Linked DNA regions of Homo sapiens: region 1 is linked to region 2. Evidence: fine-mapped expression QTL. A gene starts in region 2. The other region holds a variant in brackets. All regions are shown on one strand. Distances are between the middles of the regions.

What was found.
Region 1: its variant is fine-mapped to the expression of SGPL1 in whole blood (INTERVAL, PIP 0.94).

The regions. Positions count from the first base shown.
Region 1 is chr10:70,675,624-70,691,283 of GRCh38, forward strand. The region is part of intron 2 of ADAMTS14 (ADAM metallopeptidase with thrombospondin type 1 motif 14); the gene reads left to right. Among named protein-coding and RNA genes, the nearest start is that of ADAMTS14, 11 kb to the left of the region's middle. RefSeq lists enhancers at 6,986-7,831, 12,560-13,204. The variant C/T (reference allele first, on the strand shown) is at 5,104.
Region 2 is chr10:70,807,344-70,823,003 of GRCh38, forward strand. SGPL1 (sphingosine-1-phosphate lyase 1) reads left to right here and starts at 8,605. Exons shown (of 15, transcript NM_003901.4): 1 at 8,605-8,783; 2 at 9,468-9,537. The coding sequence starts at 9,511. RefSeq lists silencers at 8,401-8,720, 8,741-8,830, 8,911-9,020.

The DNA of each region.
Region 1 (15,660 bases), 130 kb before region 2:
CCTTTCCTAGGACCCCCACTGCTTCCGCAATGCTTCCCAGAGTCTGGGAGCGCCTCTGCTAGTTGGCTCCACATTGCAAACCAGAAAGCCATGGGGTGGGCTGTCTTTCTCGCCCCCACCTGGGGTTGGCTCTCATTCCCCTCGCTGCTCCTCCTCAGTGTGCAGGCCCTTGTGAGCTGGCACAGCAGCCTCAAGGTCCTGTTGGGCAGCTCTTCCCTGCCCCAGAGACATCAGATGTGAGCTGATGGGTCTCAAGAAGGGGCCCGCTTGCTCCTCTGCCCTTCAGCTTTGAGAGCGAGAAAATTTGAGATGGGGAGGGGTTGTGGGTTCCTTCCTCACTGGCAGGGTGGGGAGCATTTGTCACCATTGTCTCATGTGTAGGAGATGTCTTATCTGCTGATTTCGTGGCTGCCTCTGTCTAGGCCAGTGCTTTCCACCTTTTATCATGATGTACCCCTAAATGTTTTAGACATTTCCTCCCAATCATCAGTCTACCCCACGATGAGGTTTTTTTTTTTTTTTAGAGGTGGATTTTCACTATGTTGCCCAGGCTGGAGTGCAGTGGCTATTCACAGGCACAAACACAGGGCACTGCAGCCTCGAACTCCTGGCCTCCAGCCATCCTTCTGCCTCCGCATCCCAGGAGCTGGGGCTATAGGTGCTTGTCACTGTGCCTGGCTTTCCTCATGCAATTTTAATACCACAGATATACTGAATATCTGTTTATACACTGAATATCCATCTGTGTTTTATATATTCAAAGGTGTAATATTTTTGCCTTCCCCAGAATAAATTTTCATCCCATTGAAGGTGGTAGGGCCCTCATGGAGAGGGCTTATCTACATGGTAGTTGGTTCTCATAGTTGAGCATGCACTAGAATCACCTGAGCACCTTGTCAGGTGCGCAGAATCTGCCTCTCAGGGGAGGGACCAGGATCTGATCATTACCAAACTCTGCAGGTGAACTGATTCAAGAGTTCCTGAGAGCGGACTTCGAGAAAGCAGATTGTCAGGGCAGCTGGGGGAGCCTAAGGCCTTGTCAGGTGTCTGGGCTGAGCCTCTGCCGCCAGCCCACTCTGGCTCTGCGGCTCTGTGCCACAGGGGCCCTTGGTCACCCCGCTGGCTAGAGCTATGCCATGGCCACAAGTTTTGGTGGAAAATCCCAAGTGATGTTAGGAATCATCCAGGGATACAGTATCCATGCAGGTAGAGAGAAAGTGCTGGTGCAAGCCAGCAGCTGAACTGAATTAGATGGTGAATTCCTTCTAAAGTCATCACACAGGTAGGCTGTAAGCTCCTCAGTGACAGGGCTAGGGCTCCAGCTTCTCTGACTGCCCTCCTGGAGCGAGACACAGAGGAGATGCTCAATATATGGTGAGAACCTAAACTGAGGATGACCGTCGCTAATAATAAGTGACTCCCCACCCCCTTTGCATCCTGAAAACCTCCCTTGTCATTGAACCAGCTCAGCAGCCCATTGACAAGTAGTGACTGACCACTAGGTGCCACAGGGACCAGGGAGGGCCCTGAAGGACCCTGAGCTAGCACTCCTGAAGCACGATCACATGGCTACGTGGTGTAGCATATATGGTGACAAGTCTTCATGCTCTGGTTTTGGGGGCTGGCGGATGGTGGAGGTGGGGCTGTTCAGTGGGCCTGGGGCTGGGGATTCCTCAGAGGGTGTTGCTGATTTTTGGTGGCCTCTGAGTAAATGTTCTCATTAGCTGTGTGACCTTGGGCAAGTCACCCCCTCCCCATTTCTGAGCTTTACTCTTCTCATTTGTCCAAAGAGGGACTATACTTGATATTCCCTGGAAGATGGGAATCGATTCTGTGTGGCATTTGCTGAAGCCGGATCGGGTCTCAGAGGCTGTCCAGGTACAGGCTTCTGGAGGCTTGCTGGGTAGCTGGTATAGAACTGAGGCTCTAGGAAGTGACTTGCCTGGGTCCCCCTCCCCTTGGTGAGGGGCAGAAATGGACTTCACTGGGCTGAGCTTCAGGCTGGACCACAACATGTACCCTGGCTGTTTCCAGAGGCCAGTCCTGAAGTCCAGTATCTGGACGCCTCCCCTCCAGGCCCTGGGAGTGGTACTCCCTGACTGCCTTCCACTGGGGCCGCCGGCACAGAGGTCACCCCAGGCTGGGATTCCTTGACTTTCCGCCCACTCCAGGAAATGGCCCTGTGTCCCGTGACAGCAAGGGGCTGTGTCCCAGTGACCCAGCTGAGCTCACCTTTGGACTCAAAGGCCACGGTGTAGCATTTCTGATAAGATTGAACTCTGCATCTTTACATGGTCTCTGGATTTTAATCCCATATTCTCTAACATCTCAAATGCCAAAGTCATTCATTTCAAAAAATTTGTACTGAGTGCTGACCATGGACAAGGTCCACAGGAGATCATAAAGAAAATGAAAGTGACACAGATAATGACAGCAACAGTAACGGGTTCTTCCTGTGGCCCAGACACAGCATGCATATGTGTATGTGCTTTTATTAACTCCATCCATTTGCAGATGAGGAAACTGAGTCATAGGCGGAGATACGAAGATAATACAGATAGCTTCCATTAGTACAGGACTTTATAGTTTACAAAGCTCTTTTGCTTCCTTCAATCTTCTGAAGTGTGTATGCAGATATTGTTATTACTCCTGCTTTGCAGAGAGTCAGGTCCCTGTCCTCGAGGAACTTGGGTGCCATGCAGGGGGAAACCCACCAGTAGTTTCAGCATTCACTTGGTTTTCTAGAACACAGTGGGGATGGGTGCTCAGTAAATGGGAGTGATTGTTTTCTTTGATGTCAGAGAAGGTGACATTTGAACTGGGCCTTGAAGGATGAGTAGAAGTTTGCTGGGGTCAGGGGGTGGGGAGGGCCTTCTGGGCAGGGGGAAGAGCTTGAGCAGGCTAGTGATGGTTGGGCAGAGGAAGGAGCACCATGTCAGGTGGGGCTGGGGAGTGGACCCTAGAAGACACGCGGGGCAGGGGGGCTTGGTCTGACCTTGAAGGAAGGGCAGGATGGAAGAAGGGGTGTGGGGCAGGGATGGGGTAGGTTGCTCTCTTGAAGAGGCTGGGCTGGGAGTTGAGAGATAATGGCTGCGTGACTCTGAGCAAGCTGGCCCCTTCTCTGGGCCTCAGTTGCCTCCTGGGTGCATTAAGGAAGCTGGGATGTGTAAGCTCAGACCCCTTCCAGCTCTGGCATTGGTGCTTTGTGGCATGGGGCTGACCTTGTTGGAGTTTGGAGCCAGGCCCCTGTAAACCTGTAGTTGATGGCTCCCTCCTACATTGTGGTTAATTCATGCCTAACACTGGGGTATGGGATACTTTGTCTTACTTCCCACCCACTGTTATGGAGGGCCTTCTGGGTGTCCTAGCTGTGGGAGGGGAAAGAGAAAGATCCAGGAATGAAAAAGCAGGGCCCTTGCCCTGGAGGGGTTTGTAGGCTAGTGGGGACCCAGACATAAAAGCAAACTTGAGAATCTAGTGAGAGGCAGCAGGAGAAGGACCTGTTTAGTTTGGTTAGGGCATCTAGGAAGGTTCCCTGGAGGAGGTAGCAATTGCTCAAGACTGTTCAGACATTATAAACATGAAAGATAGTGCCAGGCCCCTGACCAGCAGAAAGAATGACTGACCCAGCCAGTCTTGAGGATGTCCAGGGGCAGGAAATAAGGGATGTGGGGGCGGGGCCTGGTCCTGCCTGCAAAGTGCTTCCTCTGGGGTTGTGGGCAGCTAGCCTGGGATGCTGTTAGACCTGAGAGTCCCAGACTGGGAATGTGTCCAGTGACCTGACGGGCCACTCTTCAGAGCCACTAACACTCTGCACCTGGGAGGAACATGGGGTGGGGATCAGTTCTTTGCGGATCCTGGAGAAGTTGTGGCGTGCAAGGTTGGGGTCGGCAGAGTGGGGTCCCTGCTTCTCAGTGGGGCTGCATGCTCACTGTGCCCATCTAGAATCCAGGCCACCAGCCTCCTGAAGGGTTGCTTCTCCTACGGCCATCTCTGCCTCCCCAGGCCCTGGGGCCTGATGCCCTGCGACGGGGTGACGGGAGCTTGGCTGCACCGTGTTTCCCCCTTTGCCTTCAGTGCCTCTGTGAGTCAGGGCCTGGCGCGGAAGCAGCCACACGTGTAAGATTTGTCACCATCTGGTTCTGTTTTCCACTCTCTGCAGATCTTGCATTTTTGATGGGTTATACTGAGTAGACCCTGGCAGACGGCTTTGGGAGGGGCAGGGGAGGCTGCATCCCAGCCCAGCTGCTCACCACTGAACAAGTCACAGAAGCTCCTTCGGCACCTCCCTGTTGTCTTTAAAATGGGACTACAGTGTGGGGTGGGGCGGGGGGAGTTGAGAACTTCAGGGTAAGGGCCTTCTTTATGGGAGGCTGAAAATATTTTAAAATTGTGGCAGTGGTTACACAATTCTGAGAATATACTAAAAACAATTACAATATGCACTTTAAGTGGGTGAATTATATGGTATGTTATATCTCAATAAACCTGTTACTGGCTGGGCGCGGTGGCTCATGCCTGTAATCCCAGCACTTTGGGAGGCTGAGGCAGGTGGATCACCTGAGGTGGGGAGTTTGAGACCAGCCTGGCCAACATGGAGAAACCCCGCCTCCACTAAAAATACAAAATTAGCCGGTCATGGTGGGGATGCCTGTAATCCCAGCTACTCAGGAGGTTGAGGCAGGAGAATCGCATCGCTTGAACCCGGGAGGTGGAGGTTGCAGTGAGCCAAGATTGCACCACTGCACTCCAGCCTAGGCAACAAGAGCGAAACTGTCTCAAAAAATAAATAAATAAAAAAAATAAAATAAACCTGTTACTAAAAGCACCTGGCCTATGGAAGGGCCCCACGAAAGGTGGTGTTCGTAATTCCAAGGAAATAGTCTAGTTTGGGGGAAAGAGCAGGATGTGCTCACTCCAGCACAGATCAGCTGTGGGACCTTGAGCGAGTGTCTTCATCTCCCTATGCTTAGATTCCTCATCTGTAGGAAGGGCAGAGGAACAGTTGTCTATGGGGTTGTTCAGAGGATTAAATGAGATAAGGCAAAGTGTAGGGCATGGTTTATGGCAGGGCCTTAAAAATGGATAAAAGTCTGCAACCTC[C/T]GCCTCCTGGGTTCAAGTGATTCTCCTGTCTCAGCCTCCTGAGCATCTGGGACTACAGGCGTGCACCACCATGCCCAGCTGATTTTTGTATTTTTAGTAGAGTCAGAGTTTCACCATGTTGGCCACACTGGTCTCAAAATCCTGACCTCAGCCTCAGCTGATCCACCTGCCTCTGCCTCCCAAAGTGCTGGGATTACAGGCACCGCACCCAGCCAATCGTGATTACTTTTTAACAGTGATTATTAATAATGATAAATATTACAAATATCATCAGAGTCCCTTTATTGCAATGATATATAGATCATTGGCATTATCTGACTGGCCCTTGGCCAAGTCCTGGGGATGCAGGGATGAAGCTCAGCCCTCTGCCCCTGTATTCCAGAAGCCCACGGTTTAAAGGGGAGGCTGAACTGCACAGTAGACAGTAAAAAGCAACACAGACCATACTAAGCTTCAGTGATTTGTGGGAATACAGGGAAGCATAATGCATGCCAGGGGTGGCTTGGAGGTGAGTACTGAGAAGGAGGGGTGCTCAGGGAAGGCTTCCAGGGTAGGGGACATTTGGGCTGGGTTTTAAAGGATCAGTAGGGGTTTTCAAAGCCACGGAGTGAGAATTGTAGTCATTCTGTAGGGAAGGAAATCCTGTGTCTCTGCAAGATTCAGGAAATGGCAGGTCATTTCAGCTCTCCGTGGGAGAGGGAGAATGGTGAAAATGTAATTGGAAAATGTCAACCTCACCATGGAGCTTGGCCTTACCCCTGGCATCATGGGGAGCCATGGAGGTTTGTAAACAGGAGTCACATTAGTGTTTGAGAAAGACACTCATCCTTCCAGCTCGATGCTGGTGCACAGCAGACTTGTCTGTGGCTTTTTGGTCTCCTGTGCCAAACACCTGTCCTTGCCCCGGGGGCTGCTCTTGACTGGCTGGATGAGTGAGTAGGCGTCCTGTGGGCGCCCTGGGAAGCTGCGGGTCGGCTCCACATTCCACCCTGCTTTGGAGGTGTGGAGTGTGGAGGCTTGGAGTCTCACTGTGACCTACCCCCTCCCAGACACCCAGCTGGCTTGTCCCCTTACATCTTGACCTGCAGGCCTCCTGCCCTCACACATGTGTGCCTAGAGACCCTGGGAGGGGCAGGGGGCACCAGAGCCCTGTGTGTGGCCCCACATTGGTGCAGACCTTGCTGCCTTGCTGACCTGCCTCTCTAGCCTTATGGGCTCCAGCTCACAGATGGCTGTCCCCGCCCCTGCCCTGTCCAGGCTGGCCTGCTCTCGCCTCACTTTTCAGCCCCTTCCCTTGGCTGTGCTGTTCACACCTTCCCTGTCCCCTCACTTGATGTATGTCCCATTTCAACTACCAGTTCCTAGAAATCAGAGACTGTCTTAAATGTGTGCATTTCCTGGAGCATTGAGCATAAGTCTGGGCCCCTGGGTTGGAGGGGCAGGAGGTGGAAATTTCAGATGCACCAGGAGTAAGCAGGTAACAGAAGAAAGAGAAGAGGACCGGGTAGTCATAGGGGGTGGGATTATGGCAAAAGGGAGAGGACTTGCCCACTCCAGTGTCACTCTGGTATTATAAGAGGTTTGAGTATTGTAGGAGAAATGGGAAATATGGATTTTTAGGTAATTCTTAAGCCATTGTATGAACCAAACCCAGCAAGGCTGTTAGCTGGAGGCCTTGGGTTGCTTGTGAGCTCAGCAGCATGTGCTGGGGGGTGAGTGTGACCCTGGAACCAGCCCGCCTGGGCTGAAATCCCAGCTCTGCCTGTTACATGCCATGACCCTGAGCAGTTAGCTCACCTCTGTGTGGTTCGGTTTTCTCATCTGGAAAGTGGGGATCATAATAGTAATCACTTCATACAGTTGTCATGTGTGTAAAGGGTTTAGTGCAGTCCCCAGTACACTCAGCTGTTGCTATTACATGGTGTGGATTACTGGTTGGTTGAGTCTACCAGGTCTGAGGGGATGGTGGCAGGAAAGAAGTCAAGAGCACCCCATTTTTCTGGCTGCCACTCCCAGAGGGGTCTCTGGGTTTTCAGTGGGGCACACAGAGCCCGTGTTGGCCTTGGACCCCCTCAGGCCCGTTAGTTTTCTCGGGGTGCACCTTGCTTCTCCTTCAGTTTGCTGCTGGCCCTGAACATTCCCACCTGTAGTTCCCAGAGGTGCAGGGCAGAGTGTGGTCACCTATGTGTCCTCATGACCCAGCACTGGGCCTGCCGGACAACCGTCTGGGTGAGGAGGCATAAACTCCTGTAGTTAGATGAGGGGACAGCATTTGTCGTCCTCTCCGTGGCTATCTGGCCATCTGCTCCTAGGCCAGAGGTGGTGACTGCTGAGGCACGCACACTGCCATTTGCCCTCCTGCGCCCTGGCAGGCCCTGCAGGCCCGCTGTGGCACGCTGTCCCTGGGCCTCAGACCCCCCTGCATGTGCTCACGTAGTCACTCTCCGTGGGCCGAGTGGGCGTGTAGGGGAAACCCGTTTACCTCCCCGCCCTCAGCACTCCCTTCGTGAGCAAGTTTCTGTCTTCAGGGTGCACACCCTCTCTGAGAGTGGGAGCTGGTTTCTCATGTTTGCCACTTAGATAACCCGGTTTCCTGGGAAATACTGGGTACCTCTCGGCAATCTGTGTTTGCAGCACACGAAACAAGAAAGGGAGTCTTTGGAAAGAAAGGGGGCTTCTCCTGACCCGCCTGCCAGGGTGACTGTGGGTCTTCAGTGTGGAAAGAGGAAGTCACTGCTTCGTGATTGGGGCAATGTGAGGGCCTGGAGGACACAGAGGGGCTGTGGTCTGCATGGGAGTGTCTTGATCCCAGCCAAATTCCAGGAGGTGGGCAGCACAGGCTCTCCTGGGGAAATAGGCAGGGTGGGAAACTGAGTGACTATCAGTTATCATTCTTGTGTAACAAATCAGTCTAAAACTTGGAACTGAAAACAACATTGTGTCCTTCCTCACAACTCTGTGGGTGGGCTGGCTGGTTCCTCCCCTGCCTGCTCCAGCCTGCTCACGTGGCTGTGCTCCGCTGAAGGGTGGGCTGGGCTGGAAGGCCCAAGCTGGCTTCTTTTACATGACCAGCATGGTGCTGGCTGTAGGCCGCGCGGCCTCAGTTCTCTCTGTGGCCAGTTATCCTCCAGTAGGCCGTCTCAGGGTAGCACTCCAACAGGGGGAAGGTGGAAGCTAGAATACCCCTTGAGGCCTAGCCTTGGGAGTTGCATGTATTAGTTCATTCTTGCACTGCTATAAAAAAATAACTGAGGCTGGGTAATTTAGAAAGAAAAAAGGTTTAATCAGCTCACAGTTCTGCAGGTTGTACAGGAAGCATAGCGGCTTCCACTACTGGGGAGGCCTGAGGAAACTTCCAATCATGGCAGAAGGCAAAGGGGAGTGAGGTATCTCGCATGGCGGGAGCAGGAGCAAGATAGAGAGCAGGGGAGGGGGGTGCTACACACTTTTAAACAACCAGATCTCATTCACTGTCACGGTAACAGTGCCAAGAAGATAGTGCTAAACCATTCATGGGAAACCGACTCTGTGATTCAATCACCTCCTAGCAGGCCCCACCTCTAACATTAGGGATTACAATTTGAAATGAGATTTGGTGGGGACACAGATCCAAACCATATCATGGCATAAGATCACTTCTGCACCTTCTGCTGGTCAACGCAGGCCATAAAGCTGGACAAAATTTTCCAAGAGTGGGGAAATGGACTCTTCCATTTGAGGGAAGGAGTGGTAAAGTCTCATTGTAAAGAGATGGTGCACAGAAACAAGAGGACAAGTTGCAGCCATCTTTGCAAATATTCTTCCACATTGCCCCTAGGCAAGTGATTTGACGTCTCTGAGCCTCAGTTTATGTATCTGTAAAGTGGGTGTCCCTACCTTGTAGTTTTGTGGGTTAGAAATTATGCACTTAAAGTGCTGCCACAGTGCCTGGAGAAATAAAAGTTAGCATTTCTTCTTCTTCCTGCTGATGTCTTAGAATAAATAAGGAAACTGAGGCAGGATCCACAGCAGGTTTGTCTCCAGCTCTCTGGGCGCCCATGCCAGGGCTCTTCCCCCTGCTTTCCAGAGGCCCCCTCCTGTCTGGGCCGCTGTCTGTCTGAGCAGAGGCCCCGGGCCTGGGTCCTGGGTCCTGGGTCCTGGGTCCTGGGTGGTTTTCCAGTCCTCCAGCCAGTCTGATCTTGCAGTTTTACCTCCCTTGTCTCCTCATGACCATGCTTCACTGTCTGCCCTGGATTAATAACTTATTTATGATATGGAATAAAAGCCAGACATCACCTCACTGCGGCTCCTCCGGAGCAGAGCCGGCCTCCCATTCCAGCAAGGGCTGGTTTTATTTTTCTTCCTCTGTGTCTTCAGGCACTGGCTGGAGGGAGGGCGGCCTGAGGGCTGCTTAGCAGGCTGGTGAGAGTGATGGGGGCTGTGCTTGTCTCTCCATGTGCCTTCCAGCCCCAGGGTGGTACAGGCCCAGGGTGGGCTCTCAGTGAGGGCCCAGGAGATTCCACATTCCCAGGCACTGCAGTGGAAAGTTCCCAAACCATCCACCAGGCCCAGCATTCCATTTTCAGCATGTGGGTCTTGCCCTGCTTTCAAAGCCCTAAAAACAACAACAGTGATAATATTTACATGCTGCTTCATCCTTAGCAGCACCAAGGAGCTCCCTGTCAACATAAGCTCAGGCACCTGCAGATACCCTTGTGTTATGAAAACCTGCATGGATCCCAGCTCAGCGTACTTTCCACCATTCGCCCTGACTTTGGCCTGAGTTGGAGACAGCTGTGGCTGGAAAAGGCTTTGGGGCCCTCTAGCTCCCTCTTCATTTTCCAGTAGAGGAAGCCGAGGCTCAAGTTGGGGAGGAGATCCAGGGTCATGGAATAGCAGGTGAGTGTCAGGTGTCAGGGCACGCAAGGACCAAGGTTCCTGACTCCCAGGCAATGTTCCTCTCGCAGTTCCAGGCAGCCTCTCCTGTCAGTGGAAAGGCCAAGCGTATGTGAACAGAAACTCAAGGTCGTAAACTGTGTGCTGTCCCGTGATATGGTAGCTGTGGCAACAGCTTCAGAATGATTAATGCTAAAAGTGATTGGTCTAATGGTGGTGGGAGGTGAAGGGGCCTGGGGGTACTGAGTAGAGGTGTTTATGAGGCTCCCACTATGAGGGGGAGGGCTGCTTAACTTCTGCGTGTCATTGTCTTCTCTGAAACTGGGAGGCCAACTAAGAAAAACAGATGTCAATGGCCCAGTTAGTGGGATTTGATGCTCAAACGGAACCTTCTGGTGTTTCTCAGACTCAAGTCACCAGTGCTGCTGTTTTATCCATTTTCAAAATATTGGAGAGGGAGAGGGCTGCTGTTATGTACACATTACTTGTCATGGAACATTGAAAAACCCTGCAGTCTAATTTTCTTCTGCTTTCAGTAGCATGGCTGATGGGGCAGTAGAACAGGCCCCTTTTTAGAGAAATGTCTGGAGGTGAGATCGTTTGTTAGGACCAAGTTGGTCTGAATGCAAACTCTGTTCCCAACGGGTGGCTGAAGGCCTTTGTCAGCCTTTGCTTTTTTTTTTTTTTTTTAATTTATTTTTTTATTGATAATTCTTGGGTGTTTCTCACAGAGGGGGATTTGGCAGGGTCATGGGACAATAGTGGAGGGAAGGTCAGCAGATAAACAAGTGAACAAAGGTCTCTGGTTTTCCTAGGCAGAGGACCCTGCGGCCTTCCGCAGTGTTTGTGTCCCTGATTACTTGAGATTAGGGATTGGTGATGACTCTTAACGAGCATGCTGCCTTCAAGCATCTGTTTAACAAAGCACATCTTGCACCGCCCTTAATCCATTTAACCCTGAGTGGACACAGCACATGTTTCAGAGAGCACAGGGTTGGGGGTAAGGTCACAGATCAACAGGATCCCAAGACAGAGGAATTTTTCTTAGTGCAGAACAAAATGAAAAGTCTCCCATGTCTACTTCTTTCTACACAGACACGGCAACCATCCGATTTCTCAATCTTTTCCCCGCCTTTCCCGCCTTTCTATTCCACAAAGCCGCCATTGTCATCCTGGCCCGTTCTCAATGAGCTGTTGGGCACACCTCCCAGACGGGGTGGTGGCTGGGCAGAGGCGCCCCTCACCTCCCGGACGGGGCGGCTGGCTGGGCGGGGGGGGCTGACCCCCCCCACCTCCCTCCCGGACGGGGCGGCTGGCCGGGCGGGGGGCTGACACCCCCACCTCCCTCCCGGACGGGGCGGCTGGCCGGGCAGAGGGGCTCCTCACTTCCCAGTAGGGGCGGCCGGGCAGAGGCGCCCCTCACCTCCCGGACGGGGCGGCTGGCCGGGCGGGGGGGCTGACCCCCCCCACCTCCCTCCCGGACGGGGCGGCTGGCCGGGCAGAGGGGCTCCTCACTTCCCAGTAGGGGCGGCCGGGCAGAGGCGCCCCTCACCTCCCGGACGGGGCCACTGGCCGGGCAGGGGGGCTGACCCCCCCCACCTCCCTCCCGGACGGGGCGGCTGGCTGGGCGGGGGGCTGACCCCCCCACCTCCCTCCCGGACGAGGCGGCTGGCCGGGCGTGGGGCTGACACCCCCACCTCCCTCCTGGACAGGGCGGCTGGCCGGGCGGGGGGCCGACCCCCCCACCTCCCTCCCGGACGGGGCGGCTGGCCGGGCAGAGGGGCTCCTCACTTCCCAGTAGGGGCGGCCGGGCAGAGGCGCCCCTCAACTCCCAGACGGGGCGGCTGGCCGGGCGGAGGGCTGACCCCCCCACCTCCCTCCCGGACAGGGCGGCTGGCCGGGCGGGGGGCTGACCCCCCCACCTCCCTCCCGGATGGGGCGGCTGGCCGGGCAGAGGGGCTCCTCACTTCCCAGTAGGGGCGGCCGGGCAGAGGCGCCCCTCACCTCCCAGACGGGGCGGCTGGCCGGGCGGGGCGCTGACCCCCCCACCTCCCTCCCGGACGGGGCGGCTGGCCAGGCGGGGGGCTGACCCCCCCACCTCCCTCCCAGACGGGGCGGCTGGCCGGGTGGGGGGGCTGACCCCCCCATCTCCCTCCCGGACGGGGTGGCTGGCCGGGCTGAGGGGCTCCTCACTTCCCAGTAGGGGCGGCCGGGCAGAGGCGCCCCTCACCTCCCGGACGGGGCGGCTGGCCGGGCGGGGGGCTGACCCCCCCACCTCCCTCCTGGACGGCACGGCTGTCCGGGCGGGGGGGCTGACCCCCCACCTCCCTCCCGGATGGGGCGGCTGGCCGGGCGGGGGGCTGACCCCCCCCCCGACCTCCCTCCCGGACGGGGTGGCTGCCGGGCGGAGACGCTCCTCACTTCCCAGATGGGGTGGCTGCCGGGCGGAGAGGCTCCTCACTTCTCAGACGGGGCAGCTGCCGGGCGGAGGGGCTCCTCACTTCTCAGACGGGGTGGTTGCCAGGCAGAGGGTCTCCTCACTTCTCAGATGGGGCGGCCGGGCAGAGACGCTCCTCACCTCCCAGACGGGGTCTCGGCCGGGCAGAGGCGCTCCTCACATCCCAGATGGGGCGGCGGGGCAGAGGCGCTCCCCACATCTCAGATGATGGGCGGCCGGGCAGAGAGGCTCCTCACTTCCTAGATGTGATGGCGGCTGGGAAGAGGCGCTCCTCACTTCCTAGATGGGATGGCCGCCGGGCAGAGACGCTCCTCACTTTCCAGACTGGGCAGCCAGGCAGAGGGGCTCCTCACATCCCAGACGATGGGCGGCCAGGCAGAGACACTCCTCACTTCCCAGACGGGGTGGCGGCCGGGCAGAGGCTGCAATCTCGGCACTTTGGGAGGCCAAGGCAGGCGGCTGGGAGGTGTAGGTTGTAGTGAGCCGAGATCACGCCACTGCACTCCAGCCTGGGCACCATTGAGCACTGAGTGAACGAGACTCCGTCTGCAATCCCGGCACCTCGGGAGGCCGAGGTTGGCGGATCACTCGCGGTTAGGGGCTGGAGACTGGCCCGGCCAACACAGCGAAACCCCGTCTCCACCAAAACCAGTCAGGCGTGGCGGCGCGTGCCTGCAATCGCAGGCATTCGGCAGACTGAGGCAGGAGAATCAGGCAGGGAGGTTGCAGTGAGCCGAGATGGCAGCAGTACAGTCCAGCTTCGGCTCCGCATGAGAGGGAGACCGGAGGGGGAGGGGGAGGGGGAGGGGGAGGGGGAGGGGGAGGGGGAGGGGGAGGGAGAGGGAGAGCCTTTGCTTTTAAGCCAGCCACATATTTACACCTTTGGTCTGTCCAGAAACAGCCTGCCACTTTCCCCTCCAAGCCACTCCCGTCCCCCAGGCAGAGGTTCACATCCACCCCTTGAGGCTGGCAGGGGCCCACACTCTATGAGTTAGCTCCTCCAGCCTGAAGAGGCCTGTGTTCCACAGCCTGGCCGACTGCTGGCCTGGGTGCATCGTGCCTTTGAGGCTTTGTCACTTCAAAATTCATAGTCCCCGCGTAGGGAGATGCTAGGTAAAATATGCCGTCCCCTAATCCACGGCCACAGTTTTGGGGAAGCGGATCTCTCACAAGGGTGGTATACCCAAGGGAGTTTGTTTTAAGGCCTGACCCGAAGGATGCTTGTTTAGCATGGTTTCATTCCAAAGTCAGTTGTGCAGCACCAACCAGTTCATCCCCCTGAAGCTCACGTCTAGAAGAAGGACAGAGATACCTGGACAGGGATAGAGCACCTGCCAAGAGCCACCACCACAGAGCACAAAGGAGGGAGCAGTGATGGGGTGGCCTTCGAGCTGGGTGAAAGGGGCATTCCTAGTGGGGTGCACAGCAGGGGCGAAGGCGCGGAGGCCCATGGGAACTGTGGCTCTGGTACAGAACGGGTCCTGTGTGGCTCCATTGTGGGGATTTTTGTTGCTGGTAATTCTAAAAGGGAAACCAACACAGCATAATAAGAATAACCAGCACTGGGGTGGTGTGAGCCACCTCCTGTCTCTCCCAGATGATGACATTCGCCTTCCTGCGCTCCCTTGCCCCTGCAGTGTATTCGCCAACAGCAGCCTGGGCAGTCCTGTTACAATCCGAGTCCTCCATGGTTCGCGGCATTCCTCCCAGAGAAGCCAGCCAGGCCCTGGGCCGCCATCGCTCCTCCTCACTGCCCTCCCTGAAGGGAACATTCCTCCCCAGGGACTGCCAGGGCCTGCCCCTCAGACCCCTCAGGCTTTCACTCAAATGTCACCTTCAGAGCGACGTCCTCCCTGGCAACCTTATTCACAATTTCCAGCTCCAGTCCTCTCTTCTCCATGGCTCCTTCCATTTGGTATGTCACATATTTCTAGTTATTTATCGCCTGTCACCACCCTGCTGTAGAATGTTAGCTCCGTGCAAAGAGTAATTTTTGGCTGTGTCTCCAGCACCTAGATCAGGGGCTTCTCAGTCATCATCTGATGAATGAATGAGTGAATATGTGCTATTGCAGGCAAGGGTTTAGGAGAAGCAAGTTACAGAGACATAGGTGAACATGTGAAGGGAGGGGGTCTGGAGAGGGGGTCTGGTGGCTGCAGTGTGGGCATTTGTGCTGCTAGTGCCTGGCAGGTGAACTGTAAGAGTGTGGCCAAATCTGGAACCTGTGCTAGTGGTGCTGGTCCCTGGGCAGGGTTAAGGACAGGACCATGCCACCTGTCTGGGGTCTTCTGGCCAATTGTGTTTCATCTGCTCCTTCCACCCTTTGCAGAGGAGACTGGCCAGTGATACCTGGAGGGTCATTGTGTCATCAGGAGCCACTTGTGGGGCTAGAGCTAGCCTGGCATTCTCCCATGCTTACCTGCATTCTGGAGGGAACTTGTCTCTTGGCCACTGCCAAGTCCCTCATCGGCAGCTCACTACAGACCTGGCTATGCATCAGATGCAGTGATAAACATTTATGTGCGTGATCTCACGTGGGAGGCATGGTTTAAAACTAGTCAGCGACCCACTGGGCCAGGCTGCTGTAGGGCTCATTCGGAGGGGAGGCCTGGCTGGGACAGTGACCTGTGGGGCCCTCTCTTGGGCCTGTTCTCCACTGCCAAGGGTGCAGCACCTTGCCCAGTGCTGCTCACTGTCAGCTGGTGTGCGTCTGAGTGGCAGCGTTCAAACTGCAGGGCCTCCACGCAGGGTGCCGCTCCTCCGCTCAGGGCCTGGCAGCCACACCGCCTGCTGGCACTTGAGGGCTGCTTCCTGTCTCTTCATCCTGGAGCCATGGCTGCTTCCAGGACTCAGGGCCAAGCAGGGGCCAGGCAGAGCTCCTTCGCCGAGCTTGGTGGGCTATGATGGTGACAGAGGGGGAAGCCTCAGAGCCGCTTGGCTCCTGGGCACTCGGGAATGGAATCTGAGGGTGGCTGCTGGCCTGGCAAGATCTGCCCTGAGTCTGGCTGGGCTCCAGAGTGAGGGGTTTGCAGCAGAAGGCAGTCTCTGAGCACCTACAGGTCCTGCCTCTGGGCCAGGACATCTGCCTGTTGGCGGGGAAGGGGAGTAGAAATAAAAAGTGACCACCCCTCCTTTAAGAACTTCAAGCTTTTGGCTGGGCACGGTGGCTCACACCTGTAATCCTAGCACTTTGGGAGGCCAAGGCAGGGCCTCCCTTGAGGTCA
Region 2 (15,660 bases):
TGCTCTTTGGATGAAGATCAAAACACTGTTTCCTACAGGACTGGGAGGTCTCAGACAGGAGGATTGCCATCTGCATTTGCATTTATTTAAAAAACAATTGAACTGGTGACATTCTGTTTCTTGATCTGGGTGGTGCTGAACAATGGTGTTCACTATGTCAATATTCATCTAGCTCTACACTTTGATTTGTGGACTTGTCTGTACATACAATGTATCCCAATTTTAAAAAATCTTCAAAACAACTGAATGAGTTGCCCAAAGTTCTGGGAGTTCCTTGGTCGTATTACACTTTATGATCTTTTAGATCTCTTGACCAATACCATACAACTAGAGATTTTTTTCCCCCTTTCTATCTTGGGAGGAAAAAGATGGAATTAACAAACAGAGGTGATTCAGTGAGTTACATTGTGGTCACAAGATAAATTATGCACATTGCGACAAGAAAACCACATAGTCCTATAAAATTATGGGCTGTTTTTATCCAGAATTATGCTGGCTTTCTATTTCCTGTTGTTGATTAAGAATAAAGAGGGACCTGCCTGTTGCCCCTGCCTGCAGCGCCTAGAGGAGAGAGAGAAGTCATGATCAGCCTCATTTCTGCCCCAGGGACTGCATTATTCCCCTTTGAAGCAACAGTGCTTCCCCTAGAGCTTGGTCAAGGAGAGGGGCTGCAGGCAACCCCTGTGTCTGCCCCAAGAAAATGGGAGTTCTGAGCAACTTGGGTGTATGGAAAAAGGAAGCACTCTCCACAGATGGCTGAAAAGCATTGTTGGTAACATATGAAGCTTGAGTCTAGGGGTAAATGACAAGCCCTTTAAGTGGGCTCTGTTTCTTGGAGTGCTGAACTGTTCCCACTGTTTAACATAAAGAACCAAAGTAGCCCTTGCAAAGAGAGTGAGAATAATCTCTGACTCTGGCAGGCTCTTAGGACATCATAATTTTAAAATTGAGAGAATTTTTAAAAATCTAGATTTCTGTCTTTCCTTGGAAAATTGAGATGTTGAACTACCCTACTATGCTATTAAAATTGCCAGGTATGGTGGCTCATGACTGGGAGGCTGAGGCGGGTGGATCACCCAAGGTCAGGAATTCAAGACCAGCCTGGCCAATGTGGTAAAACCCCGTCTCTATTAAAAATACAAAAATAGCCAGGTGTGGTGATGTGCATCTCTAATCCCAGTTACTTGGGATTAGGGCAGGAGAATTGCTTGAATCTGGGAGGTGGAAGTTGCATGAGCCAAGATGGCGCCACTGCACTTTAGACTGGATGACAGAGCGAGACTCCATCTCAAAAAATAAATAAATAAATAAATAAATAAAATTGCAGTATCCATGACATCTTGTCCTAAACCCCATACTTTGTGCTTCCCTTACATTGCTTTGCTTCCTCTCTTTCCATAGCCCCAAGCATCTCCTAACTTACCATATAGTTTACTTATTTATTCTGTTTATTAGTCTGTCTCCTTCTGCTGGAATGTAAGTTGCATGAGGGCAGGGCCCTTTGTTTTGCTCAATGATCCATCCCAGGTCCTGAATATTGCAACCTGGCATTGAATAGTTGTATGCATGTTGAATGAATGTAGCCTGAAGCCTACATTCCCAATTTGTAGCAGTCACATTGCCTGCCTGGGCCCCTGAAGGCATGTGTATTTGCCATGCCTGCCCCTACTGACCTGCATGCCAGCTTCTGCCTTCCGTCCCCCTCAGGCTTGTTTCTCTGGCCACACTGGCCTGGCCTCTCCTGCCCCAACACTGGCCCTCCGCACTTGCTCAGCCAGAACGCTCTTCCTGCCCCTCTCTGCCTGGCTAGCTCCTGCTCCTGCTGTGTTCTCAGCTCAAGCTGTCCTTGATCCCTCTGCCTAGGTCACTCCCCCAAGCACAGAGAATATTCTGTCCTTAGTCACTGACTAGAGGAAATTCCTTTCATTCAGTTTTCAGACATAAAAAGCTCTTCATCCCTTGTGAATTAGGGTGCCCCCCCCCCGCCCCCGGCTACCCTGACCTCTGAGCTGAGGATACAGGTGGTGCCCAGCCCCTCTGAGTCAACCCTGGAAACCAGTTCTACAGTGCCAGGCAAGGAGCAACCCTGGGCCAAGGGCTGAAATTACCCCACTGGTCCTCTGTCTACCCACGACTTATATAAGGCTGGGCCTCTTCATCATGTCCTATCTGTGTCAACACTCAGGAGAGGGCCTGGCCCTCTGGCAACATGTTCATCCTTCACAGCAGGGCCAGGACAAACACTCCCTGACCAAGTAACCACAAGACAGAGGGCCCTTCCTGGGCACCTGGAGACAGACAGATGGAGTTACCAAACAGAAGATTCTGGGAAGGGGAACCCCAGTGGGCCAAAGAGAACTCTAGACTGACAGAGGTGTGGAACAGCTTCCCCTCTCTACCCAATTTTGAGATGAGGAAATTGAAGCCCAGAGAGAGTCAATGGTGCATCCAAAGCCCCACAGCACAGCGTCCCAACAGCCCCACAAGAACCCACAAGCTTCACTGTGTTTTCTGGGTCTGGGCTTCTGGGGCTGGAATGTCAGGAATTCTAGGTTCTGCCCCCATTAGCTGCAAGACCAAGACTTAGAAAGAGATGAGAATGGTTAGAATGTTGCAGCTCTTATCCGGGAATGTACAAAATACAGATGACTGGGCCTCACACCTCATTCCTTCCATCTGCAGGAGGGCCCTGACATGTGGATTTTGAAAGGCTCCTTGGAGATGCTGACTATCCATGCTAGATGGGCACCTGGATGATGTTTAAGTCCCTTCTAGCTTGACAAATCCTCAGCTGTAGATATTAAAATGCTGCTTGTGCTGGAGTGTATCCCTGTCATCAGTCCACAAGAGAAGCTCTCACTGGGGCAGCTGGGCTCCCTAGGGAGCACCCTGGAAATTAAAAAAAAAAAAACTTTTGGTTGTCATAATGATGAGGCTGGTGCTTCTGGCATTCAGTGAGGGGAATACTGCAGTCCCTGGGGCAGAAATAAGGCCCATGATGACTTTTCTCTCTCCCCCAGGTGCTGCAGGCAGGGGCAACAGGCAGGTCCCTCTTTGTTCTTAGTGAGGGATGCATCCCATCACATTGAAGAATTGTCCTGAGTCCTGTACATCTTTTGAATGTACTGTCAGAATATTCATAGAGGTGAAAAGCTAGTTCATAGGCACATGAGCCATAATCAACTTCACTTTACATGTACGTTTAAAAAAAAAAAAACACCCTGGTGCAGTGGCTCATGTCTGTAATCCTGAAGCGGGTGGATCACCTAAGGTCAGGAGTTCGAGACCAGCCTGGCCAACATGGTGAAACCTTGTCTCTACTAAAAATACAAAAATTAGCCTGGTGTGGTGGCAGGCGCCTGTAATCCCAGCTACTCGGGGGACTGGGGCAAGAGAATCGCTTGAACCGGGGAGACAGAGGTTGCAGTGAGCCGAGATTGTGCCACTGCACTCCAGCCTGGGCGACAGAGTGAGACTCTGTCTCAAACAACAACAACAACAACAACAAAAAAGAACACATGATTTTATTGCACAACCTACCTGGAGTACAACTACCATGTTGAGAGCTGTGTGTAAATTGTCCTGCATTTTGTCTGAAACGTTATCGACCTTAAGCCACAGTTTTGTAAAATCACATCATCCATGGCAATGCTGCTCACATAGTAATTGAGTCACTAAGACACTACCTCTATACTGGTCTGCATCTGCAGCTTTCCTATCCATGATGATTGTATCTAATTCTATGAATAGCCTAATTTAGTCCTTATGTCAAAATGTCAAATATAAAGAAAGCAGTGACAGCACTATTCAATTAAATATTGCCTTCCTGTAATGCAAACATATCCATTGTAAGTCCATGCCTCTGCCAACTTCATGTATGATTTTATCGTGACATTCCCTTTTAAAATTATAGTGCTATATTGATTTCAAGATAGTAAAAGAGAGTTACAAAACAATATTTGTTATAAACAGGGGTGTTGGATCTGGTTGGTTTAGGACTTACTGATCTACAAGCAATAAAACCTGCAGGAAAACAGTAGATCTGTAGCTCTCAGACAAGCCTTGCAAAGGTCTAGCATGCCCTAGAGAGGGCAAGGGGCACGTTGGAAGGACTAATCAACTTGTTAGGATCAGGTCCTGATGGGGATCGAAACCAGCTTCCAGCAACAATGTGAGAGGGCTAGGCTGGGCTTAGTCAATCACACGGCTCAGATTGGAATCTTATTTGAGTACACCCTGGATGTATGCGGAGGGTGTTAGACCAATAATTCTTGGCCGGGCGCGGTGGCTCACACCTGTAATCCCAGCACTTTGGGAGGCTAAGGTGGGAGAATCACTGGAGCCCAGGAGCAGCCTAGGCAACATAGTGAGGCATTGTCTTTATAAATTAATAATAATAATAATAGTAATAATTATTGAGTGCTTATGGTGGATCAGGCCTCATATGTGATGGGCACACACATACATCTCTTACAATTGCCACAGCAGTCTTAGGGTAGTTGTTAATTCTTGCTTTACAAAGGAGGAAGCCCAGGCTTGGACAGTTACAACAACTTGCTGGAGGCCACACAATGATTCCTGGGTAGAAAGCTGTCTCCCTGCCTTCAAAGCTATTTTGAGGCCACACAATGATTCCTGGGTAGAGACCTGTCTCCCTGCCTTCAAAGCTATTTTGTCAAAGGAAGTTTATATTTATTCAGTGTTTGAGAAACAGCTGCTCTCAGTTTTTAATGTTTTGCTAGGAGTGACTGTGCAGCCTGGATAGCAACAATGGTGGGTGTATTAGTCCGTTTCACACTGCTATTAAGAACTTCCCTGAGACTGGGGCATTTATAAAGGAAAGAGGTTTAACTGACTCACAGTTCCACACGGCTTGGGGAGGGCTCAGAAGACTTACAATCATGGCGGATGGTGAAGGGGAAGTAAGCCCCTTCTTCACAAGGCAGCAGCAGAGAGAAGAACGAAGGAAGAACTTCCAGACACTCATAAAACCATCAAATCTCATGAGAATCACTCAGTGCCATGAGAACAGCATGGGGGAAACCACCCCCATGATCCAATCACCCTCCCTCCCTCGACACATGGGAATTATGATTTGAGATGAGATTTGGGTGGGGACACAGAGTCAAACCCTATCAGTGGGCTTCTTTACGAAAGATGAGGTTTCCTTGGGAAATAACTCTTGGCTCTCTGAGGGCTTGGCCACTCTGACTTTGATCAAACTGGCAACTGGGGTATGTACCTGAGTGAGGTCAGGGGGCCCATGATAACTCGGTGACTTGCTGCCCCTTGCTCACTCCAGTTGGCAATGTCGGGGCATTTGGTCCCTGCTGTGGGGGCTCCCATGTCTGTCTGGCCCTTGGCCTCTCCTCCCCTGGTGGCCAGCTCTGCTGTGATCAGCTGAGCCTGCTGCTGGAGCTATGTGCTGGTTTCCTGCCTCTTCTTGGGCATTCTGGGCTCTAGGAACTGTTTGTTGGTTTCCTGTGGGCCATTCCTTTCCAGGATGGGCCTAGAGGCTGCAACCCTCCTAAGATCTGCCCACACCCCTGTCCTGAGGTGAGCTTCTCAAGAAGGTCCCCGGCTGAGCAAGGGGTGTCAGGAGCAAGAATGGAGGCAGGAGAGTGTGTGCGCCTGCTTTTTAGAGTGGGAGTGTGCACTCATGCATGAGTGGGAGGCTGTCATTAACTTGGCCATGGATGGCTGCCATTTTAAGCAGAACCAGATTTGCTGGCATGAATTGTTTAAATGATGGCAGGCACAAGCACTGCAGGGAGATCCTCCTAGCCTAAATTAAAGAAGCCACAGAGGGAAAAAATCCCAGACCATCTTGCTCCACACCTCCCTCCCCCGTCCCAAGCCTTCCGTCATCTGCGGGAATTTCAGTGCCTCACTGACACCTGAATGACAATCTTTTGTCATCCTGGAAGGCACCATGATGGTACCAAAGGACAACTGGGGAGCATTGGTTCCCTCCCCAGCCCCAAACAAACACGTTCTTCATCAGCCTCCTTAAGCCATCCCAAACAACCCACACGCTTAATACAACTATCGTGCCTTCTATCCGGGCAAAGTGCCATGTGTCTGTAGACACAGCTACTCAGGAGGCTGAGACAGGAGGATCGCTCGAGCCCAGGAGTTTGAGGCTGTAGTGAGCTATGATAATGGCTGTAAATAGCCACTACACTCCAGCCTGGGCAACATTATTGAGACCATGTTTCTAAATAAGCAAACAAAAATTGTGCTTTCTCTGCAAACAGAGTGTCTAGGGAAGTGCTTTTTACTTTCTTGTGCATTAAGATCATCTGGGGACCTTGTTAAGCTGTAGATTCTGATTCAGGAGGTCTGGAGTGGGGCCCCAAGAACCTGTATTTATAACAAGCTCTCAGGTAAAGCCAATGCTGCTCTCAGGGAAACCACACTTTCAGAATGGAAGTTCCAGATAGCCCTCCTCTGCCTCTGACCAGCCAGCTATGTGCCTGCTAACGTCATTCTGCTGTCAGAGGGAGTGTGGGGTAGGAGAGCAGGGTGGTCTGAAGTCTTTCTCTCTCTCTTTCTCTCTCTCTCTCTCTCTCACACACACACACACACACACACACACACACACACACACACACACAGGGCTTCATCGGCTCAGAGAGTTGCAAACCCAGACCCATGTTCTAGGCTGGGCTCTGCCAGGAACTGCTAGGAGTCGCATCTCTCTCTGGACCTCAGTTTCTTCACGTGTATTTGTGTATTCTCTGGGGTGGAGCTGGCGAATAGCTGGAGACCCCTCTAGCCCTACCATTTTTTGATTCTAATTAACCAAAAAGGATATTCGAGGTCCCCGCTACAAATTCTGAACCCTTGGCTTCCCCTCCAAACTCCCACACAAACTCCACCCCATCCTGCCTGTGTGTCTTTGGGAGGATCATTTCCTTCTTTGGTCTTGGTGTCCTTGTTTACAGGTTGAGGGATGATAAGAGTCACCTGATCTGGGCAAGTCAGGCCATAAATAAGGCTTGTATGTAAAGGTGCCTAGCATAGTTCTTGGCAAAGCAAGGATCAGTCGATATGATTGCATTGGTTTGAGCATCTGGGAAGAATGAGCAGACTGCATACTGTGTGTTAGGGTGTAGGGAGGAATCAGACGTGACCCTGCCCTCTAGTCATCTGGGTGCACAGATTCTAGATTAAAGGATGTGGGGGTGGTAACTAACAAGGAGATGGAGAGGAGGTGTGCAGTTCCTGGGGGATCTGATGAAGAATTAAAGCAGAAGGGTAGGAGATGGAGAATGGGAAGGCATACCTGAAACCCTAAAGCAACTCTTGATGAGTAGGCATTGGCAGGAGGCCCCAGAACATTTTCTGACCCTCAAACACTGAGAATGCATGTCTGCTGGGGAATAGTAGTGAGGGGGCTAAGGGTATGGGGGTGTTCATGCCTGAGTCAGGGGCTCTGGATGGTAGAAATGTCTGGGAGTTCTGACGGAATGGGGGTGAGGAGGCCTAAAGATAACCTGTTCATAGTCTTTCAGGGCCTTAACCATTATGGCTGGGGAAGTGGGAAGTGCCGATGGGGTATGCAGAGGAGGGCAGCTGTGATAGTACATTTCATCCTGAAAGCACTACATGTGGATAATGACGGTAGTGATGATGCCCTAATTTTAGTGTCATGGCAACATTTTCCAAGGGGATGGAATTGGGTACCCTCATTAGTGTCATTTTTGTTTGAGAGATTTCAAGAGTCTATCTAGGTGTCATTTTAAAATCTATTGAAAAAAAATCTTGAATGCAGGTCACTGACCAGTTGGTTCCATGTAACTGCACTGCCTTCTGCTACCACTAAAGCAATGTTATGACAACCTGGACAAGTCATGGGAAACCTATGTGAGACTTAGTTTTTTCTTTTTCTTTTTGGAGTTGGGGGTCTCACTATGTTGCTCAGGCTGATCTAGAGCTCCTGGGCTCAGACAACCCTCCCGCCTCAGCATCCCCAAGTGCCGGGATTACCGATGTAAGCCACTACACCCAGCTGAGACTTAGTTTTTTCATCTGGAAATGAAGGCGACCTTTGTGATCCCAGTGGGCCCTTGCACTTGTGTATAAGGTGATTCCCAGCACTGCTCATGAAAGTAGTGATGGCAGAGTAGCCTCTGCTCTCCATTTTATTTTTGGGGTGGGGGGGGGCAGTGGTGGAGGGGAGGATGAGGATGATATTTCCATTAAATAAGTTTCCTTGTTGCTTTTCTTCAGGCACCACTGACCTCGATGGAAAAATGAAGTCCCTGGCCCAGGAAAGAGACCCAACTCTGTGGCTGTTTTGGATTAGTTTGTACAATGCCCTGCAGACCTACTCTCTCAGGAGGCTCCAAGTGACCAAATGTGACAAGAAAGTTTTTTGTCCAAGGCAGTTTGGAAGAGAAGTTGGTGACCGTCGGGATACCACAGCCGCCCCAGGACGGCCTGGTTGAGACATTCACTGGAGGGTCTGGGTGCAGCCCGCTGCCTGGCCGGTAGGCGGCGCGCACAGGCCGTGGGGCCCGGGTCTGGGCGTGCGCGCGGCTGGTAGCAGCGGGGCCGCGCACGCCAGGGTCCGGGAGCCGGGCCGGTGCCCCCGGAGCCATTTCCGGGAGGGGCGAGGCCGGCGGCTGCCGGGCCTCCAATCTCGGCGGCGGCGGCGGCAACAGGGGAGCCTGGGTCTCGCGGCCTGCGAGTCCGTCGCGTGCTGAGGGAGACGCAGGAGGTGGAGCCGGCCGGGTGCTCGAGGGAAGGAGACTGGAAGCTGGTTCCGGCGTGAGGAGGTGGAGGGGCCGCCGCGGGCTCCGGGGGGCGGTGAGGGTCGGGACGGAGGCGCCGCGGGGTGAGGAGAGGACAGGGGCCGGGTGGGCCGAGGGCGGGCAGAGGCGGCGGGGCGGCTGCGGCCGGGGCGGGGGCGGGGGCGGGCTGAAGGCGTGGGCACCAGCCGCTGAGGTCCAAGCAAGTGGACGGCGGGCGGGCGCGGGGCCGCGGTGGGGCGGGTCTGGAGCCCACGCCTGCCGCGGGGTAGGCATGGGCGGCCAGGATTTGCTGGTCCTCCGACGGGAGGGGTGACAACGAGAGCGAGGCCGTGCTGATTCTGAAGGGAGTGCGGAGGAGGCAGGACCCTGGTAGCCTCGGCACCTTCAGCCCGGGTTAGGTGGCCTGGGCTGGGCTCCCCACCCCGATCGCGCGCAGACGGGGCGTTTCCCCTAGTTTCCACCTGGGTGGAATGCTTTGTGGGAGTCTGGGTCTGGATTAGTTTCATCAGCTGTGGGAGGGAAACCTAGTTGCAGCAGGATTTTGATTCGCTGGTCTGGGGTGCTAGGGGTGGACTGTGATATCTGGGAATGAAATCTGAGCCTTCAAAGGAGGGAGAGAACCATAACTTGGCTGCTCTGGCGAATCTAGGCGGGCTGGCGAGACAGTTTAAAGCTCTAGAAGTAAACAAACCTGGTTCCCTTTTACAGAGTCTGAAAAAGGGGAGCGCGGAGAGGAGGCTGGAAGAGGAAGATGCCTAGCACAGACCTTCTGATGTTGGTGAGCCTTTTGCAGACATCCTCCTGGTTCCAAGGCATTTGTCTCCGTTTTTTTAGTCCAAAGGATCCCAGTGTGTAGATTTCACCTCTGATGCTTGCTTTTGGTAGCTGAGCGTTTTGCCACCTTTTATTTTGTTTTGTTTTGTTTTGTTTTTTTGGAGACGGAGTCTCACTCTGTTGCCCAGACTGGGGTGCAGTGGCATGATCTCGGCTCACCGCCACCTCTGCCTCCTGGGTTCAAGCGATTCTCCTGCCTCAGCCTCCTGAGTAGCTGGGATTACAGGCGCACGCCACCACGCCCGGCTAATTTTTGTATTTTTAGTAGAGACGGGGTTCTCCATGTTGGCCAGGCTGGCCTTGAACTCCTGACCTGTGGTGATCCACCCGCCTTGGCCTCCCGAAGTGCTGGGATTCCAGGCGTGAGCCACCGCGCCTGGCCAACCACCTTTTATTTTGGATGAATGATCAGGATGAATAAATAGCTGAATTAAATACATCAATACAGTATATGTAGAACTTAAATTATTGAAGAATCTTTTTCAAAATTATTATTATTTTTTTTAAATGAGACAAGGTCTTGCTATGTTCCTCAGACCGGAGTGCAGTGGCTATTTACAGGCATAATCATAGCTCACTGTAGCCTGGAACTCCCACTTCAAGTGATCCTCTTGCTTCAGCCTCTGGAGTAGCTAGGACTAGGAGCACAGGTCACCTCTCCTGGCTTTCTTTTTCATAATTCTTGCAGTTTTAATCCCTCCCTTCCCGTACTACCAGAGCAGTTTTGAAACCTCTATTATTACGTTTTATCAGGGTCTGCCATATACTAGTTTATCTGAGTGTTTGTCTTCCAGATTAGAGTTATGGTTCCTCGACAGGCAGATAATCATGTCTTCTTTGTTTAGAGATGAATAAACACCTAGCATGGTGCTCTGAATATAGTATGTGCTTAACAAATGCTTGTTGGATTGAACCAGTATGAATTTAAGTTCTTTTGTTGGACAGAGAGGTATGCCTGCTTTAGAGCTGTTTCCTCTCCTCCTGAGATCTTTCTGTGCTGTTTTACTGAGCAGGGAAGAATAGCGTTGCTAAATGCATGTTTACCAAAATGACATTTTATTTTTGGGACTTTTATGATTCCTTATGGACTTCTTAGTGTGAGAATTATGGAGAGTTTATAGCTTTGAAATGGTGGTATAGAAAAAGTGTCCGGGTTTAGTTTTTTTTGTTTCGTTTTGTTTTGTTTTGTTTGTTTGTTTTTGAGATGGAGTTTAGCTCTTGTCTCCCAGGCTGGAGTGCAATGGCACAATCTCAGCTCATTGCAACCTTTGCCTCCCGGGTTCAAGCGATTCTCCTGCCTCAGCCTCCCGGGTAGCTGGGATTATAGGTGCACACCACCATGCCTGGGTAATTTTTGTTTTTTAATAGAGATGGGGTTTCGCCGTGTTAGCCAGGCTGGTCTCAAACTCCTAACCTCAGGTGATCCACCTGCCTTGGTCTCCCAAAGTGCTGGGATTACTTACAGGCGTGAGCCGCCGTGTCCAGCCAAGTTTGTTTGTTTGTTTGTTTTTGTCACTTCTCTGAGTGCAAAATCAGTGCTTTAAAAACAATTCATTTCTCTCTCTTTATCTCACTATCCCAGAGGGTGGGTTGGCGTCACTGGGAAACTGGCAAAAACTGGTAGTGAGATTTCCTTATACTGGGTGCTGACATCGTAGTGGCATAACCTGTAAGGTCTGCAGGGGGGCTAAAGAAGAGAGAAACTAAGTTTTGATCCATTGTGATTTGAGGCAGGGATCTAGGATAATTTTAGGTTGTATGTGAGAGACATAGATGAATACTTAGGTTATCCGCAGATCCCAATGAAAAGTTCATCTAAAATAGTATCTTGCCCCAAATTTCATGGATTTTTCAGTTTTAATTAATACCCTTATATAACTTAAAATTCTTATTCAAAGACCATTATGTTAGAAATACTGGAAACTATAAGTAAGCAAAAGGAAAGGGGATTTGTTAATCTCCCCTATCTCCTACATCCCCTTCATTCGCCTCTACCCCGTGCAGTAATTTATCACCCAGAAATAACCGCTGTGAGCATCTTGGATGGTTAATGCAGAGTGACTTGTAGCAATTGACAGTTTCTGTTTATCCTCTTACAGAAGGATATGTTTATGTAAATTATAGGTTCTTATATGTAAGATATTTCCCCATGCACAGAGATATGGTTATTACTTATAGGGCCTATGCATTTACTTTAACAGAACAATGACTGCTTTTACTCGGAATATTAACTTTGGAATCAGTTTTCTTTTGAGGTATTTCTCTAGCTGTTGCCACCACCTTTCACCTCCTCACCTGTTAATTTAGAATGTTTAGGAGTGTTGCTTTGCTTGTTGCTGTAAGGAATTAATCCACATAGATGCGAGTGGCCCTAGGCAGTCATCACTTTCTGAAGACAACATACATGTTGCATGAAGTGCTTTCACTGGAAAAGTTGTCATTCATTCCTTGACTGTAATGTATAATGCTATTTGGAACTAACTGGTAAAGAACCAATAACCATGGCTGGGTTTTCAGTGGCACACTAACCCATCATTCTATGAGGTGTTTCTCAAGCTACTTTATATGATATGTAAAACATGTTCTTGGCCCTCCACCTGGGAAGAAAGGACCTAAGTGAATAAAAAAATAACCTCAGTGCAGTGCAGCATCTCAGAATTAGAAATAGTCTTAGAAGTCATGGGATGCAGCTTTTTTTTTTTTTTTTTTTTTGAGACAAGGTCTCACTCTGATGCCCAGGCTGGAGTGCAGTGGCATGATCTCAGCTTACTGCATCCTCAATCTCTGAGGCTCAGATGATCCTTCCACCTCAGCCTCCTGAGTAGCTGGGACGACAGGCACATGCCACCATGCCCGGCTGATTTTTGTATTTATTTTTTGTAGAGATGGTAGTTTGCCATGTTACCCAGGCTGGTATCTAACTCCTGGGCTCAAGGGATCCAACCGCCTGCCTTGGCCTCCCAAAGTGCTGGATTACAGGCATGAGCCACTGTACCTGGCCTGTGATGCAGCTTATATTATACATGAATCTGTTGAAGAGTATCTCTGGTAAATGGATATCCAGTCTCCCGTCTTTTCTGCTAATGGAATAAGTGAGCAAAAGCTAGGAAACAATACAAGGTGGATTCAGGAATAGTAATGTTAACTCTGATAGCTAACATTTATTGAGCATGTATTACATGTTAAGTGTAGGAATACTGTACTTATTTAATTTTCACAAAAACCTTTTGGTATCCTTCTTTTACAGATGAAAAACGAGGCTTATAGAGAGTAACTACAGCAGTTGAGTGGTGGAGCCAAGTTTGACCTCAGTTGGTCTGACTTCAGATCCCTCCCTCTTGCCTACTTTGTGTCCTTACCCCTGGTAAGGGTAGAGGTTGCTGACCATTGTGACTGATGGGAGAGGGTCTGTGTGGAGCAGATGGGATAGGATAGCTCCACCCTCTAGGGGGCACTTTGGCAATGGGGGACTGGGGGAGGAGGGAGTCTTTTTTCTTCTAGTGTAGTCTGAAAATACATGTTTTATTATTAAATTATTATTAAATCTTGTTTATTGGGTCAGGCGTGGTGGCTCATGCCTGTAATTCCAGCACTTTGGGAGGCTCAGGCGGGCAGAGTACTTGAGGCCAGGTGTTCTAGACCAGCCTGGTCAACATGGCGAAACTCTGTCTCTACTAAAAATACAAAAATTAGCTGGGCATGGTGGCGTACACTTGTATTCCCGGCTATTTAGGAGGCTGAGGCAAGAGAGTTGCTTGAACCCGGGAGGTGGAGGTTGCAGTGAGCTGAAGCTGCACCATTACACTCCAGCCTGGGCGACAGAGCGAGACTGTCTCAAAAAAAAAAAAATTTGTGTTTTATTTTCTTTTACGTCGCATTTAATGAATTATATTGAAATTTTAAAACTTGTATCTGCAGGCATAGTGTTATAATCTTTAAATGCCATGTCAGAGTAGCAAAAGGGATTACAGAATATTTGTTATAAAAAGAGGGCATTGGGTCATAGAGTTGAAGACTACTTGTGTGGACAGTATGCTGTGAGAGAAAACCTGGAGATGACCTGGAGTCCACATATAACAAGCCTTGAATCCAGACTGACAGGCTCGGGCTATCAGCCCTCAGTGTGTTCCTGCCCTCAATTTTGTTATCATTTGATTAGGATAGTTTGCTTGCCTTTTTCCATTTGCTCGTATGTGATGTGTCATAGACTGCAGTACTTTCCACCTGTGTCTCATAGAGAATAAAATGAGTATGTTCATCTGCTGAGAGTTGTGATGATGTCAGAGGGAATTCAAGTCAGACAGCTTTGTAGCAGCCTTTCTCCCCCTTGGCAACCATTCTTTTTATTCATACTCTCCTCCTTGGTGCTAGAGGGTGGTATCACTTTGCAAGTTGCCAAATATTTGTAGTTTTTAAGAAAAAGGTATTTTATAAAGCCAGTCTACCCCTTAGGTGGCTTTTTTCTTTTCTCATCAGAAAATGATGACTAAATTAGCTGATATTCATAGATGAATCAAGGTTAGCGTGTGCACCCTGGTAGTGCTAGGTGGGGTTTGAGTGATAATTGCTTATCTAGGGCAGTGGTTCTTGACCAGGGGCAATTTTGCCCTCTGGGTGACATTTGACAATGCCTAGAGACATTTTGGGTTGTTACACCTGAAGGGTTCTGCTGGCATCTAGTGGGTAGAGGCTAGGGATGCAACCAAACACCTTACAACGCACAGTTTCCTGCAAACAAGAATTATCTGGCCTAGAATGTCAATAGTGGTGAGGTTGAGAAACTGGTATGAAGTTTCTTACCATAGATACCTGGATATCTGTGTAGTCTATGCTTTCATATGGGTGGGGGAGTGATTCCCTTCTTGGAGGTTAACGTGTCTGTTATTGTCTCACTTGGGGTTATTTTGCCCATGGGTCAAGCCTTGCTGCTCAGGAATATATATTGGAGATGGTGCAGCTGATCTTTTATAGCAATGCAGAATTCTTAAGAAATGCTGTCCTTTGCAACATTTCTGCACCACTCTTTTCTTGATTTGCAAACAGCAAGCTTCCCTCAGTTTTGTTTTTTGGGTTCAAAAATTGAATCTTTCCAGGTCCTTGAGCGTCTTTATCTGTGACCCTTGACTCTTTTTCAGGGATGCTTTCTTTCTGAATCTCAAGTGGGATTTAAGCAATAAACTGAAAGATTGACCTTAGGAGCTCTGTTCTATTATTTGAGCCTTGTGTCTTGTTTGTAGGATTTGCTAGAAGAAAGGGAAAATTCATTGGGATTGTTGATAGGACATTAAAAAATTTGTTGACATTTGAGTGGCCATTGCAGGATGAACACTGTATTTGGCAATCTCCCAGTGTTATAGATGAAACAGAGCTGTAATAATTTCCACAGCCTTTGGTTTAAAGGAAAAGAGGGTTATAAACAGATAGAATCCAAATCCCAGTATTTGACTTAGCTTTTCAGTCTATGTGTCAGGAATTTTTAGTAATATTTACCTTCTTAATTAGGTTTTACCCAATCTAATATTATATACAGTTTGTGCACATTGGTGGCAGAATTGAGAATCAGCCTGGGTTTAAGAATTTCCATAGGGAATTGATGTGAATCAGTCTGTATGTGTAAATGTACAGAACCCAATTACTGAGATAAAAACCATGCTGTGGGGGAAGGGGAGATAGGGGCCCTCTGAGAAGATGGAATGGTGAAGGCTGCGAGTAGTTTGTGGATATATCAGTCATATCTTGGCATAATCCAACAGCGTACTAAGGGATCAAGGGACTATTTTCAAGGCTGAGCAGGTTTAAGGAAAACATCTAGGTGAAACATCTAAGGGCTAGCTAGCAATAGGAGAGCCATTATCACTCTTTTTTTTTTTTTTTTGTCATGGCAATTTCACTGAAGCTTTTATTGCCTCTATTGGTAATATGACAGGGACTGTAAGAAACACAATTGAACTTACAGAGATATGCAGATGATATTCACTAAAGATAATCTTCATCTCAAGTATTTTTTATATGTGGGCACTTCTAATTTTATACATTTTTCTATTTAAAAAGCATTACATTTTAAAAT